2 separate regions of the Homo sapiens genome follow, and region 1 is linked to region 2. The links come from fine-mapping of genetic effects on gene expression. A gene starts in region 2. The other region holds a variant in brackets. All regions are shown on one strand. Distances are from middle to middle. Region 1 overlaps LOC105376184 (a long non-coding RNA gene). Region 2 holds the start of PGAP4 (post-GPI attachment to proteins GalNAc transferase 4).

The links. PIP is the estimated chance that this variant, and not a neighbour inherited with it, causes the effect.
Region 1: its variant is fine-mapped to the expression of PGAP4 in adrenal gland (GTEx, PIP above 0.99). The same link has a PIP of 0.9 or more in subcutaneous fat and visceral fat.

The regions. Positions count from the first base shown.
Region 1 is chr9:101,452,113-101,460,454 of GRCh38, reverse strand. LOC105376184 (a long non-coding RNA gene) reads right to left here. Exons shown (of 4, transcript XR_001746862.2): 3 at 4,999-5,077; 4 at 1,366-1,514. Among named protein-coding and RNA genes, the nearest start is that of TMEM246-AS1, 12 kb to the left of the region's middle. The variant A/T (reference allele first, on the strand shown) is at 3,562.
Region 2 is chr9:101,483,505-101,491,846 of GRCh38, reverse strand. PGAP4 (post-GPI attachment to proteins GalNAc transferase 4) reads left to right here and starts at 4,674. Exons shown (of 2, transcript NM_032342.3): 1 at 4,674-4,898.

The sequences.
Region 1 (8,342 bases), 31 kb after region 2:
ACATTTTAACTTTCCATGTGAGGCAATCAGAAACTATCCTGGCCGGGCGCGGTGGCTCACGCCTGTAATCCCAGCACTTTGGGAGGCCGAGGCGGGCGGATCACGAGGTCAGGAGATCGAGACCATCCCGGCTAAAACGGTGAAACCCCGTCTCTACTAAAAATACAAAAAATTAGCCGGGCGTAGTGGCGGGCGCCTGTAGTCCCAGCTACTTGGGAGGCTGAGGCAGGAGAATGGCGTGAACCCGGGAGGCGGGGCTTGCAGTGAGCCGAGATCCCGCCACTGCACTCCAGCCTGGGCGACAGAGCGAGACTCCGTCTAAAAAAAAAAAAAAAAGAAACTATCCTAAGCTTACTTCTTTAAGAGTGTGCAAATGGGAGCATTTATAGGTGATACAAAGAGATAAAAAAGAAGAGCATCGATCTATCAGAGAAATATCTTCCCATGAAATACAGTTGCTACAACAAATAAGAGAAATTTTAGAAAATTCCAAATCAAGTTTTTGCCAGATTCAAGAGGACTCTGAGCCAGGTGTGTGTGGCTCATGCTTGTAATCCCAATGCTTTGGGAGGCTGAAGTGGGAGGATCACTTGAGCCCAGGAGTAAGAGGCTGCATTGAGCCATGATGATCACACCACTGCACTGGGTGACAGAGCAAGACCCTGTCTAAAAAAACAAACAAAAAAAACTTCAAGAGGACCTTGAAACTTCAAATCGAGAGCACATAGTCATGAAACATTAATGAAAAAAAAAAAATCTAGAACCATCTGTTGGTTGTAGTGAATTTGATAAGCCTGTCTGGATCAAATTTCTTAATCCTATCCTGCCACCTCCTTTCAATACCTTGAAAAACGCCACCGTTTAGAGTATGTGCACAAGTGACAAGTTATGGTCCCGAATCATGATCTCATCCATCCTTGTGAGCTAGGTTGGACTGAATGTCTTGAGCCCAAATGAGTCCTCTTCCTGCCCATGGGGCTTCCTTCACTCTGGTTCTTCCTTAGTCTTCTAAGTGGAGGGAGCAACATTTTTAACTGGGAGGGATAACCCAATGTCTTTCCATAGAACCAGCTTCACGGGAGCAAAGGAAGACGCCATTCAATAGAAAATACCTAACAAGAAAGAACTCCAAGATCAAGTGGCATTGGAGCATTTATCCTAACACAGTTCAACTTATCTATCTACATACACCCTTCTCACTGGAAGTACTGATTCCATTCAGATATCAAAGGAGAAAGCCTTGAGCTCCCCCTAGAGAACAAAGCATGTAGCCAGTATTTCCTGATCTTAGCTCTCTGTAGGCTTCACAAGTCTTGCCTCCCCTTCTCTGAAAGAGGCACTGGCGCCTCTTACTGCCTTGGGCACACGTCTTTACAGTACTTACCGCATTGTGCTATTTGTTGCAGCTCCTCATTCCCTTTCACATGTGAGCCTCTTGACGGCAATCAGACTGTCATTAGGTTTTCTCTTCTATCCCTTAAAATGGTGTCTGGTGCAAAGCGGGCCCTCAGCAACTATGTTTGTTAGGGAAATAAAGCATTCAGGAGAAACAAAAAATATTAACATTCCTGGAATGTTAATATTTTGTCTTTCAGTGCTCAGTTATTTCTCCTGCTTTCTTTTCTACTTCTTTACTCCACCACATATTATAACTAGCAACTTACATAGCCCTTGTTCATGCAATATGACACTGAATCCTACAATTCTATGGGAATAGAATTTCCCTTTTACTCTTACTAGAAAAGAAAATGGACATTCAAACAGGTGAAGTGAGCTGCTTAAGGTCACATAGCCAGGAAGTATTAGAACAAAGAAACAAAGCCAGGTTTTTCTGACCAGATTTCATGATCAACTAGGTGACTTTACTGTGTTCCTTTGGATTTTTACCAGCTTTAGCCTTAGTTTGTCTGCAACCGCCACACATGCACACTGCATACACAGTATACACACATGCACACTGCACATAAATTAGCAAAATGAAGATAACTTCTTCTGGCTCTCCCTTCTTTCTGCTTTATAACATGATCACTGATTGTAAAGCATTCAAACAATATACTCATTCTCAAGCTTGATTGCACATTGAATCATCTGGGTAATTTAAAAAATTACTAGAACCTGGGTTCACTTCCAGTAGTTCTGACTTAATTTGTCTAGAGTGGGCTGAGCATTCAGATTTTTCATAGGTTGTTAATGTACTAAGTTGAGAACCACTGCAATACAGAAAACTGTAAATAATTTTTTAAAAATCTGTAATTCCTTGGCCAGGCGCAGTGGCTCATGCCTGTAATTGCAGCAATTTAGGAGGCCAAGGCGGGCAGATCACTTGAGGTCAGGAATTTGAGACCAGCCCAGCCAACATCGTGAAACCCTGTCTCTACTAAAACATACAAAAATTAGCCGGGCGTGGTAGTGCGCGCCTGTAATCCCAGCTACTCAGGAGGCTGAGGCAGGAGAATTGCTTGAACCTGGGAGACGGAGGTTGCAGTGAGCCGAGATCATGCCACTGCATTCCAGCCTGGGCGATAGAGCAAGACTCAGTCTCAAAAAAAATTCTGTAATTCCACCACTCTGAGATGATCACCATAGTTAATATTTTGGTGAATTTATCTTCTCTTTACATTGAAGCATACATCCAGTGTTACAAAAAAGGGATAACATGCAAGTTGTTTTGTAACTTAGTTTCTTTACCTGCACCCTTTTCCTCACCTGTATGTGTGTGTATGTCTGTATGTCTGTAGTGTGTATTCATATATACATTTTAATGGCTTTGTAGTATTTCACGGTATAAAGGTAATACAATCACTTAAAATCTCCTTCAGATAGATAGATAGATTGATAGATAAATTTTCTGTTAAAATCACTACTTCAGTAAACACCTTCGTATATACTATTATGCCACCAGGCTTGTTACAGCATCATTATTTATCTAATCTGATTTACATGTTATTACAACATTTTCTCCTCACCTAAATTAAGAAAAATGAGAGAGGATGCAAGAAAGAAAGAAAGAAAAAAGATATGAAAGGCAAGTCCAGGAAACAGAAAACCCATCTCTCTTACAAATTTTCTGAGCTTATTTTTGACACATATTGGAATGATGCCCTTTGTTTGAAACCAGGGACGACCCATTTCCTAACTCTGATTTCCTTGGAGCCCTTTTTCTGTAGCCCGGGGAGGGGTGAACATGAAGCAGCAAGCCAGGTAGATTCCAGAGGCAGGGTCTCAGCAGGGTGTCCATCAGCCACAAGAGGTCACTAGGGGGATTTTTAAAAACCCTCGCTTCCCTGAGCAAACTCTCCCAGGTGAATACACTAGTTTTCAGGGTGTGTTGGCAATGGTAGAAATGATGGGAACAGAGTGATCTGACAGGATACTAGAATTCTGAATTTATTGTAGACATTGATTTGCTGCAAGATGTAAAGAAAAACATTTCTTTTCCCAATCACACCACCATTGTTTTAGGAATTATTTTGCCATCATAGAAAAGGAGAGACAAGTGGTATGCTCATAGGCTTTGGAGCCATAAATACTGAAATCATATCTCAGCTCAGTATTACCTTC[A/T]GTAAGTTACATAAGCTTCCATTTCCTCATCTGGAAAATGGCCACAATGAATGATGATACCTAATAAATGAAATAAGCCTGCAAAACGCTTGGTACATGTTAAAAGCTAAATAAATATTAGTTGCTGTGTTTGATATTGTGTCTGTGTTTGATATTGGAGGAGAGATGAGTTTGGTTTGGGGCATTTTGAATTGGGCATGCTGTTGAAATATCAAAATAGAGACAATAGCAAGAGCAGAGGGAAACATTTGTGGTCATATACTGCTCATGGGGGTGTTAACTAAACATAGGGACATAGTCTCTTTGTTATGCAATTGGCAGTACGTTTTGAGAACTAAAAGTGTTTTCATAAGTCAGGATGCAAAGTGTATAAAAGGGACCTCAAAATACAACAGCTTAAACTAGGTCAAAATTTATTTCAATCTCATTTAACATCCAGTAGGCAGGCAGTCCAGGGCTCCGCCACCCAGAGCTGGCTTTATGAGGGTTTGTCTTGTGCAGTCACACAGAGCCCCACAATCAGAAGGGCCCAATGTGTAGCCTAATGCTCTGCTGCTGCCATCTTGAAATTCTTCATAATTTCATCTTTGAATTTGTATTTTGTAAGTCAAATCCAATGGGACAATGAAGCATGCACATAAACAGAGGAATACACAGTAGGTGCATCTGTCCTTCCTTTGTATGACACCTGTCATTCACAGTAGGTATATCATGTCATGCCACCATGTTTGAATGTAGTAACGGCAATGCTCTCTGACCACAGAATCCCAGTAGACCCACGATGCATGGGAGTTTGGGGAGACTCCAAGTGAGTACAAGTTAAGTGTGTTATGTCTATGACTAACAGGGGTCTGGGAGAGAGTACTGACAGATCCCAAAAGGCCAAGCATTCCATTCAAACTAGACTTGCTTCTGTTCCAGAAAGAAAGCAATGGCATTGTTAGAAACATGAACAACAAAGGAACCCCACCACATCCTTTATTACTTGTGCTACTTCCCTGTATCAGCCAGGAACTTACTTTGAAAATAACACAGAAAGGGAACAATAGGGTAACCTGTAGTTCCTTTTCCTGTCAGTCCTTCCTTACTCATCAGTAGGTAGAAGGCAAAGCATGTTGATAGAACATATTTTATCAAGCAGTGAAATAAAAACAGTTGAATTTTTTGTGTGTGCATTGTTCCTACTCTTCTGGTAAGAATGAACTACATATCCATGTATGAACCACAAAATACAAATTGTAATTTTTGTGATTCGACACGAGTTAAGTGCTCTTATATTTGCATTTAAAATGGGTGTGGCACAATATAAAAATGAAAATTTATACTGATTTAAACTTTTAGTCTTCTTTACTTAAAACAACATTAAAAAGTAACAAAAATCCTATAAGAAATTAAAATAAAGAGCTTGGAAGAAAGATAAACTTTATCTTTTATTACCTTTAATGGCACTGCTGTATTTTCCACTTGTGGATTCTGTGTCTGCTTCAGCTTTTGCTATCTTCTCACCAGTAAAGAGCTGGGGAAAAAACAACAATGACAGGGAATTGAGCATAATTCTTTTTGTTTGTTTGTTTGTTTTTGTTTTTCGAGACAGAGTCTCACTCTGTCACCCAGGCTGGAGTGTAGTGGCGCGATCTCTGCTCACTGCAAACTCGCCTCCTGTGTTCAAGCGATTCTCTTGCCTGAGCCTCCTGAGTAGCTGGGATTACAGGTGTGCACCATCACACCAGGCTAATTTTTGTATTTTTACTAGAGATGGGGTTTCACCGTGTTGGTCAGGCTGGTCTTGAACTCCTGACCTCGTGATCCTCCCGCCTCAGCCTCCCAAAGTGCTGGAATTACAGGCATGAGCCACCATGCCTGGCAAAGCATAATTCTTTAATGGGCCCACATCATTTCATTACACTCACATCCCACTAGCCAGACCTGTCACACAGGCACATCTAGCTGCCAGGCTGGCTATATAGAAATATCATTAACGACGTAGCTATAGACCCAGCTAAAACTCTACTACTTTAGAAGGGGAAAATGGATATTGGGGAACAATTTGCAGTTGGCCACAGCATTAATTCAATTTGATCTAATATTTCTGGTCCTAGAAGTTTATGAATGAAAAAAGCAGAGGTGTATAAAAAGCTTTACCTATAAGGTTATTCATTGCATCTTTATGTATAATAACAGCAAACAATTAGAAATAGGCAGACTTCCAATAACAGAAGTTGGTTTGTTACAAGAAAAACTTGGAACTTTAATGTTCCCTCCAAACTGAGAAGGAATGAAGAGACCAAAGAATGACTTGAACGAGTCCAGCTTAACGAGTAGATGAGTTTATTAGGACTTATGCACAGGGCACTCCTGGATGGTGGCGGGACAGCTCTCGAGATCCGCACCACCTCCCATCTCTAAACTGCTTTTAAGCTAATTTCTGGCTCTTTGCCTGCTGTGTTTGAGCAATGAGACTGTTTTTCTTGGTAGGTTCTCAGATACTCTCCGGGATATTTGGGTTTTCAGGGACACTTGTTTAGTTCTCTGCAGGGCATCATGACTGTGAGTCACTGCCCAGTCTTCAGGGTTCAGGCAGCAGACATATACCCTTAAGTATCCTGGTGGGGGACTTGTCACACTACCAGTCAAATAAATAAAGGCATATATATATGTATATATATATATCTTAGAATATTATAGACCTATTAAAAATTACATTCTCAGATATGGTTTTTCTATGATTATGTCATAGGAAAATGCTCAAGATGTAATGGAACACAAAAAAGCAGAATGCAAAACCCTACATATAATGCAATTTAGTGGCATTTTTTCAACTATGGGGGTAGTGTCTGGGTTTATCCAGGGATCAAAAGGACAAGACTACAGGCCTCACAGGGTAAATTTCTCATGACATATGGTTTGAACTACAGCCCTGCAGCATCATATCTGGATTTTATTTATAGGCTCAGAACAGATACATTTCTCAGAGTGAATCATCTTAACCAGGGTCATAAGATAAAAACATAGATCCAGAAGACTAGTTATTCATTTACAATGAGGTATAATAGTGACATAAACTGTATGTGTGTGTGTGTATATATGTGTGTGTGAGTGTGTGTGTGTGTATTAGTCCATTTTCACACTGCTGATAAAGACATACCCCAAACTGGGCAATTTACAGAAGAAAGAGGTTTATTGGACTTATATTTCTACATGGCTGGGGAGGCCTCACAATTATGGCAGAAGGTAAAAGGATGTCTCACATGGCAGCAGACAAGAGAAGAAAGAACTTGTGCAGAGAAATTCCCCTTTTTAAACTATCAGATCTTGTGAGACTTATTCACTGTCACAAGAACAGCATGCGAAAGACTTGCCCCCATGATTCAATTACCTCCTAACAGGTCCCTCCCACAACACATGGAAATTCAAGATGAGATTTGGGTGGGGATGCAGCCAAACCATATCATTCCACCCTGACCCCTCCCAAGTCTCATGTCCTCACATTTCAAAACCAATCATGCCTTCCCAACAGTCCTCCAAAGTCTTAACTCACTTCAGCATTAACTCAAAAGTCCATAGTTCAAAGTCTCATCTGAAACAAGGCAAATCTCTTCTGCCTATGAGCCTGTAAAATCAAAAGCAAGTTAGTTACTTCCTAGATACAATGGGGATACAGGCATTGGGTACATACAGCCATTCCAAACTGGCCAAAACATTGGGGCTACAGGCCCCATGCAAGTCCGAAATCCAGCAGGTCAGTCAAATCTTAAAGCTCCAAAATGATCTCCTTTGACTTCATGTCTCACATCTGGGTCAAACTAATGTAAGAGATGAGTTCCCATGGTCTTGGGCAACTCTGCCCCTGTAGCTTTGCAGGGTACAGCCTCCCTCCTGGCTGCCTTCATTGGCTGATGTTGAATGTCTGCAGTTTTTCCAGGCGCACTGTGCAAGCTGTCAGTGGATCTACCATTATGGGGTCTGGAGGATGGTGGCCCTTTCTCACAGCTCCACTTGAGCTGTCCAGTAGGGACTCTGTATGGGGACTCTGACCCCACATTTCCCTTCTGCACTGCCCTAGCAGAGGTTCTCCATGAGGGCCCCACCCCTGCCACAAACTTCTGCCTGGGCATCCAGGCATTTCTATACATCTTTTGAAATCTAGGCAGAGGTTCCCAAACCCCAATTCTTCACTTCTATGCACCTGCAGGCTCAACACCACATGGAAACTGCCAAGGCTTGTGGCTTCCAAAGTCTGAGGCAACAGCCCAAGCTGTACATTGTCCCCTTTTAGCCATGGATGGAGTGGCTAGAATGCAGGGTACCAAGTCCCTAGGCTGCACAGGGCAGGGGGGACCTGGACCCAGCCAATGAAACCAACTTTTCTTCCTAGGCCTCCCGACCTGTGATGGGAGGGGCTGCCGTGAAGACCTCTGACATGCCCTTGAGACATTTCCCCTTTGTCTTGGTGATTAACATTTGGCTCCTTGTTACTTATGCAAATTTCTGCAGCTGGCTTGAATTTCTCCTCAGAAAATGGGATTTTCTTTTCTATCACATTATCAGGCTGCAAATTTTCTGAACCTCTATGCCCTGTTTCCCTTTTAAAACCGAATGCCTTTAACATTACCCTAGTCACCTCTTGCATGCTTTGCTGCTTATAAATTTCTTCTGCCAGATACCCTAAATCATCTCTCTCAAGTTCAAAGTTCCATGAATCTCTAGGGCAGGGGAAAAATGCTGCTAGTCACTTTGCTAAAACATAACAAGAGTCACCTTTGCTCCAGTTCTCAAAAAGT
Region 2 (8,342 bases):
ATATATATATATATATATATATATATATATATATCCTTTAAGATTTCATTCTTTAAAAATATTTATATATCCTTTAATATTTAATATATATTCTTTGAGTTTATACATATAGTTAATGTATTTTATATATATTAAAAGAATAAAATTAGAAATCAATAAAAATACCTAGAGAAGCCCCAAATATTTGAAAATTTAAAAATACATGTCTGAATAACATGCATAAAGAATAAATTACAAGGAAAAATTGAAAATATTTTGATCTGAATCAGGTAGTCAATATGACCTGTCTGGTAGATGTGAATCAGCTTCTTTAGTCAAGTAGTGCTTGTTTAATGGGCCTATGTACAAAATGGCCATGTCAGTCGGGACAGATTCTGAATGATTTCAATAATTGTACTGATCAATTTCAATAATGTGCTGATTTTGCTACCGTTCATGTTAAGTGCTCAAACTGTCAACAGCAATGATCAAATGCTGGTTCTGTGATATGGCTTTATTTCCCAGAAGAACCAACCAGCTAGCTGGTGCCAGGTTGGTTATACTGCACATCTATTATCGGGGGGGAATAACCATTTGTCTTCTGTAGAGATTTCTGGGTACCAATTTTCTTTCCTAGGCCACAGCACTTCTGCTAATACCACTATTCATGAACTTACAGAATAAGCGTACCATTGCCTTGCTCTACCACATATTACTTTTGCCCAGGGGACCCATTTTACAGCAAAGGAAGTATGACAATTAACTAATATCTTTGGAATTCAGTGGTCTTACCATGGATCCCATCAAACAGAAGAAGCTGGTATTATTAAATGGTGTAATGGTCTTCTGAAGGCTCAGTTATGACACCAGCTGTGAGACAGCACCATGAGAAGTTGAGGTGCTATCCTCAAGAATGCAGCACGTTCCTTAAACCAATAGCCAACGTGTGGCATAATTTGCCGATAGCGAGAATTCAGACATCCAGGAAGCAAAGATATATTCTTCTCACTATTACAGCAAAAAACTTACTACAGAGATATTTTTTTCTTCCAAGCCCCACAAACTTAGCAGGTTTGGAAACTCTCATATCCAAAGAAGAAGTACTTCCACCAGGGAATTCACAGCCTATTGAGCTGGAAACTGGAACAAGAAAAGAAAGGCACCACTATATAGCCTTAAGTAATTGATTACAATACCAATGGGAAATTAGTTGCTGCTATACAATCAAATCAAGGAGGACTATATCTAGAACCTAGAAGTTCATTAACAAGTCCATGTGAGTACACACATATCCAATAGTCCTGATCAGTGGAAAACTGAAGGAACTCAGTAACAAGAGATGCACCAAGAACCTAAATCTTGTAGGATCAAAGGTTTGGGCTGAGCGCAGTGGCTCACGCCTGTAATCCCAGCACTTTGGGAGGCTGAGGCGGGCAGATCACTTCAGGTCAGGAGTTTGAGACCAGCCTGGCCAAAATGGTGAAACCCCAGCTCTACTAAAAATACAAAAATTAGCTGGGCATGGTGGTATGTGCCTGTAATCCCAGCTACTCGGGAGGCTGAGGCATGAGAATTGCTGGAACTTGGGAAGTGAAGGTTGCAGTGAGCTGAGATTGCATCACTGCACTCCAGCCTCGGCGACAGACTGAGACTGTGTCTCAAAAAATAAAGTAAAAAAATAAAATAAAATAAAAAAGTTTGTAAAGAGCCTTTACAAAGAGCCTTGTAGGAGGCCTCTGTAAAGAGCCTTATACAGTGAAGTGCTGGCAGAAAGGGGAATGTGCAATGGGTAGTGGAAGAAGAAAGCTATGATTCTCAACTTAAATTTCATGACCAACCATAGAAGTAGGGATTCTAACAGTTATGTTTCGTATTGTTTGTCCTCCATCCCCACTCTTCCCATTAGGAAGGGTAATAGTAACGATTAATATTTTATGTCTCAGGTATATGTTCAAATTCAATTACTCTATTATGACACCATAGTTACTGGAACTTTTTTTATGTGTCCCAAAAGGTTTGTTCAATTTTTATATGAACAAAGTACAAGAGAAGATGTTCAGAGTAAGAAGACTTTACTGGATATCTTCTGTTTATGCCTCCTGGTCATCCAGTCAGCTCTGTGTCCTGGGAATTTGAGCTACATGGATTGCATCAAGGGCTCTCTTGCCCTCTGATTTCTGGTTGGGTTCAGCCAATGGGAGACACTAGCAGGAGATAAGATGGCAGAAGAAAGTAGAGTTATGCTATTTATTCTCCTGGCTCTTTCCCTGATGGGTCACCATAGGTTCACTGCCTCATTCCATTAGTGACAGGTCCCATAGGATGTCTCCCTTTTTACAATTATTCTTTTGTTGTTTTAATCACTGTTTCCTTACTTTGCTCATCAGGCCTAGGATAAGTAATAGTTCCTTGGTATCAAGCCCTAGGGTATGCACTGCACTATGCCTTATTGGTTTTCTTTAATTTCACCCACACCTTTGAAAATAGATTTTTTTCATTATCCTGTTGTAGTGTGTTATTTCTGGCCAAAGCCTAACCAATGAAATACCCTACTTGCATAGAGGTTAAGATGTTTACTATAATAATTGTAATAGTACCCACTACTAGTGTCTAACCTCTTATTTTATTATTCTTCTTTTTTTTCTATTTTTGCTTTGCTTTGAGAAGAAATATAGCATGTTGATTAAGAGAATGGACTCTGAAGCCGGATTTCATCAGTTTGGATTTTGGCTTTTCCTCTTTCTAGCAGTTTGGGTAAGTTACTTAGCTTACCTGTCTCATGGGGTTGTTGGAGTGATTAAGAGTTAGTAAAAAGCACTCAGGACAGTAACAGCCATAGAAAGTACTAGGGAAGTGTTTGATCTTACTATTTAAAATATTTATCAATACCTGATATAGTATGCATTTATTTGCTTATTATCTATTGTCCACCCAAATGTAAGCTCCCTAAAGGCAGAGACTTGGTTTTGTTCATAGCTGAATCCTTACTCTCTAGAAAAGCACTATCTCATAGAACTTTCTGTGATGATGGGATGTTCTATAGCTGTACTATCTAATACAGTAGCACTAACCACATGTAGGTACTGAGCATTTCAAATGTGGCTAGTGCTACTGAGGGACTGATTATTACATTTTATTTAATTTTAATTAATTAAAATGTAAGTAGTTACATGTGACTAGTGACCATGAGATTGGACAGCACAGACATTGCCTGGAACATCATAATAGGTACTCAATGAATTTTTGTTAAACAAGTGAATAACTACCAACCATTTATAGAAAGCTAGATATTTTGACAGGTAGAATGCTAAGCACTTTATATACATTATCTCATGTAAACCTCTCAACAAACCTATGAGGGAAATATCACTGTCCCCAATATATAGATGAGAACATTGAGGCACAGAGGAGTTAATTTGTCATAGCCAGTAAATAGATTAGACCCCAGCACTGAGCCAATGACAGTGAACTGAATTCAACTTGTGTTGGTTACAATCCTCCAATTTCGGAATATCAGACTCCCATTTTTTCTCCCAGGAAATGAAACTACCTTCCCAAGCTCCCTTTCTGTGCTATATCCAGCTCTCATACTTTCCAGCCTCAGATATAGGTTTTCCAGCATTCCTAATGACAAATTCCTTGAGTGAAGGATCCACACCTCATTCTTACTTCATTGTCATCTATAGTGATGGCAGTATGTCAGAACCATTCTTCAGTAAATGCTGGCTGAAAGAGTAGATGATGAATGGGGGCTCAGGTGGGTGTTTGTAAGGTTCTAAAGGAAGTTAATATCTAGTATCAATTTTACTTACACAAGAAGAAATCATATGAGCATTTACTGGCTTTAATGCTTTATCTTGTGACCACTGAACAGACCTTTTAGAGCAGGTGTTGGCAAATCAGGCAGTAAATATTTTAGGTTTTGTGGGTCATAAGGTCTCTGTCACAACTATCCAACTCTGCTGTTCTTTCATGGTAGCAGCCATAGACAATATGTAAATGATGACTATGTTGCAGTAAAACTTTGTTTACGATCATCAAATTTTGAATTCATATAATTTTCGTAGCCCTGAAATATTCTTCCATTTTTAACCATGAAATATTGCAAAAAACATTCTTAGCTTGTGGGCTGTACAAGAACAGGCAGCAAACTGTAGTTGCTAACCTGTGGCCTAGACAGGCAAACCTAGGATTAGAAGCACTGAGTAAGGCCGTACAATTGTGTGCTGAAAACCCATTCAGAAGGGAAAGTCCAAGGTGGAATGTAGGAGGCTGTTACTTTTCTTTTGACCCCCACATTTTTCCTCCCTCGGATCATTCCGTATCTTTTTCCTATTTGCTTTGCCGGGATTGTTCTCAATCAATGTGCATACTTTCTCATACCTCAGGCGTTATGTCTCTCGTGGCCGTTTGTGTTTAAATTGAGGGTTTGGGGAAGACTGAAAAACATTCAAGACCCAAAGTAACAGCTTTCTCATGAAGCGTTTACACGCATTGAGAGATATCGTTCCATTGGTGTGAATAAGTCTCTATGTACACACCTGATGAAATATAATGCTGGCTTCTAGTCCCCTCACAAAAGAAACAGGCTTCCTGTTTGCGTGACTTGGGGGCGACTCCTGCTTTTCCCTGGCTGCCCATCAGTTGGCGCCTTTTGCCGTCCTTTTTCCCCAAGCCGCTTTGGGGGCCGCGGTCTCTCCGCAGCTCGCGGGTCACATGGCCCGCCTGAGCAAGGGGAGCCCTGCGCCTGAGCTGCGAGGCGGGAGGAGGTGAGGCTCCGGCGCACACCCAAACCGCGCTGCGCCCGCTCCTTCCGGGCCCCGGAGATGGCGCCTCCACCGGGATGAGCTAGCCAGCCTGGGCAATACCAGAGGCGGCCCTCGGCGCGCGCAGGGGACCGAGCTGGTCGCCCCAACCGGGTAGGTTTCTGTTGCGCACGATCTGCCCAGCCCTTCTGGCGCGGTGGTCGGAGCCCTGGACACTAGAGCGAGGGGACAAGGATTAGGGGTGGCCACAGCTGGCACAAGCAGGGCAGCTGGGGGTTGGGGAGAGTCATCGCAGAGGGCCTGTGCCCCGGGCAGTGCGCCTCGGGCAGGCGGGTTGCCTAGCGGCCCTGCCCGCAGCTCCGACCGCTTCCTGCCGGAGGATTGCGAGGACCCCGCAGGGGTCCCCAGGGCAGCAGGGGCCCGCATCAGTGCGGGGATGGTTGAGTGTCTCGGGGGCGCCTCCCTGGCCCTTGCCTGCGCCAGCTGCGCTGACAGGTCAATAGAAGGACGCGAGCGGGGCGCGTGCCAGTCTGGGTAAGACCCTCGCCGAGCCTAGCAGGGCCGAAGCGCCAAGGGGCCTGGCGCCTAATGGCCGCCCGCAAGCAGGGGACCCTCGCGGCGCGTCCACACCTTAGGTTCGCCGGGCGCGCCGAGAGCGCGGCAGCAGTGTTGGGTTTCTGCGGGCGACCTCGCAGCCAAGGGCTGGGGGAGGGCGACTGGGCAGAGGAAGGCGTCCCTCCCAGGACCAGGAAAAACCAGCAGAAGGGAAGGAGCGCAGCGATGGAGACGGTCAGCTCGGCCTACGGGTGGGAAACTGAGGCTCAAGCGTGGCAGGGACTGCCCAAGGTCAGCGACAGACACTAGATCCAGGGCCCTGGACATCGTCCCCCATTCTTTTTCCAAGAGGGAGGGTTAATTAGATCCACCTGGGTGTGTCTCGCCCTCTTTCTGGCCCTTGGCTCCGGCGTCGCTAGTGTCGCACTGCGCTCGCGGTGTCTTGGGGCGTGAGCTCCTGCAGGGTCGTTGTGACCCGCATCCTCTGCTCGGCCCAGGCTCTCTCCGGGGGACCGCAGGGCGGCTCCAATGATGATCTCACCATGCGGACCATTAGCAACACATGCGGGTGTGTGTGCGCGTGCATGTGTGTGTTTCTCCTTCTATAGGGGAAATAGCTTTTTTTTTTAGGGGTGAATTTCTAGAATGCACTGCACTAGGTACTTTATGAGGTGAGAAGAGAAAATCAACATTATTAGAATTATTAGAATGTTGTAAGGATACACATATTAGAAAACATCCAGTAAACAAAAATCCAAAGGAGAAGCAAAATAAAAATAACTTAAAACTTCAACTTCTAGATGGTTTAGATTTTCTGCATATCTTAAAATTTTCTCTATGTATACACATTTGAAGTTTTAAATCAAAAGCGTGGACCAAAAAATGGTATCTTGTCTTAATTTGCATGTCTTTGATTACCCATGGGAATTAACACTTTTTCCTCTGTGTAGTAGCCTTTTGCATTTCTGTAGGTGAGTTGATTGTTAATTCTTCTGCCCATTTTTCAGTTGGAGTATCTTTCTCCTCCTGACTTTTAAACACTTTATGTGTATTACACATTGAAGTAGTAATTCTTTGTCACGTGTTGCACTATAGCGAGTATTTTCTGTTAATTTTTACTAGTTCTAATTCCAAATGATCTTTTGGATACTTTGGTCAATTTTTTATTTTGATGGTTATATGGGCGTATAAATTTGACAAAACTCATCGAAATATATATATATTTAAGTGGTGCATTGTACTGTATGTAAACTGCACCTCAATAAAATTAATTTTTAAAGGCCTAGAAAATTATCATCCTGGGTAATGAGAGAGAATTTGCCTAGTCAGATATTAAAACCTGTTATAAAGCTTTCATAATGAAAATAACATGGCCCTGGCACCACAATGCAGAGAGAGATAGATGCCAAAATCCACAAACAGATATATATATACATCATTTAATTTATTATAGCTATAGCAACTTAAATCACAAATTTAAAAATGGACTTAACAGGTGCCCTGACTGTCATGTTCACCTTCCCAGTGTCTAACACAAGACTCAGTGTTGAATCAAATGCTTAATTATGATTATAAAAGTAATGATCTTTGCAGAAGTGTAGATATCAAAACAGGAAATTGCCATCCCCATACCCTTCTTTTCTCCTTCACTAAATTATACTCCACATTAAAAATAAAATGGTCATATCTCTGTACATTTTTCTGTAATTTGCACTGATATAGTTTGCATTTCTCCCTTCTGGTCTTAGTCTACTTGAGCTGCTGTAACACATTCTCAAAGACTAGGTGGCTTAAACAACAGACACATTTATCTCTCAAAATTCTGAAAGCTGGAAGTTCCAGATCAGGGTGCCAGCATGGTCAAGTTTTGGTGAGGGCTCTCTTTCCGGTTTACATGTGAGAAAGCAGAGAAGAGAAGTGATCTCTCCTGTCTTTTCTTATAAGGACACTAATAAAGAACATGCATTACTGAGGTCTGCACCCTTATGACCTGATTACCTTCCAAAGACCCCATCTCCAAATACCATCATATTGGAGATTAGGATTTATAACACGAATTTTGGCTGGGCAGGAGGAGGACAAACATTCAGTCCAAAGCACAAACCTAGCTAAGATTTCTTTTATGTCAACATATTTAAACCTTTCTCTTCTTAACATTTCCACAGCATACCCTTTTATGATTCTCTAAAAATCTGTTCCCTTTGCTAGGCATTTCATTTGCCTGCAGTTCTTCCTTTCTTCCTTCCACCCTCCCACCCTCTTCCTCACTCTCTCCTTCTCTCTTTCTGTCTTCTTTCCTTTTTCTTCCTTCCTTCCTTTCTTCCCTTTCTCCCTTTGTTCCTCTGCCCCTCTTTCTCTTTTTCTTCCTACTGCATACAAAACAGCACTCAACATTTCTTATCCATCTTTGGTAGCATGTGTTGGCATTTCTGCAGAGTAGATTCCTAGAAGTAGGATCGTTATGTCAAAGGGGATGCACTTATAAAATTTTTATAGATACTGCCCCAACACCCCAACATTTCCTCCAAAGATTGCACCAATTTATATTAAAGTGCCTAGTTGTTGAACTGTGACACTCCCTCGAAGTAAATTAAATTCAGATGTTAAATATAGAGATTAATTATGGAGAAAGGGAGCTCTATTACCAAGTCTTTCCACCTAAGCATTATTTTTCTGTTTATTAATGACTTTTTAATTACCCTTTGGTAGAATTTTGTAGTATGTGTGTATATTCTGCATATTTCTGAAATTTATTTCTAGATATTTGAGTTGCTTATTTTTTTCCCTTTTGACTGGGATCTTTTACTCCCTTAGTTCATTGGTGATCATGTACATGAAAGCAGTCATTATAATATAGATAATATAGATACAGATATGGATATGTAATGCATATATATAGTACATGTGTATATATACTTGCTATGTATATTATATATTATTTTTACATATTAATTCTGGTACCAACCATGTTTTGAGTCTATTGCCATTTCTAATGGTTTTTCAGTTGATTTTCCTGGGCTCCAAATTTATGTAGGCAGTAGT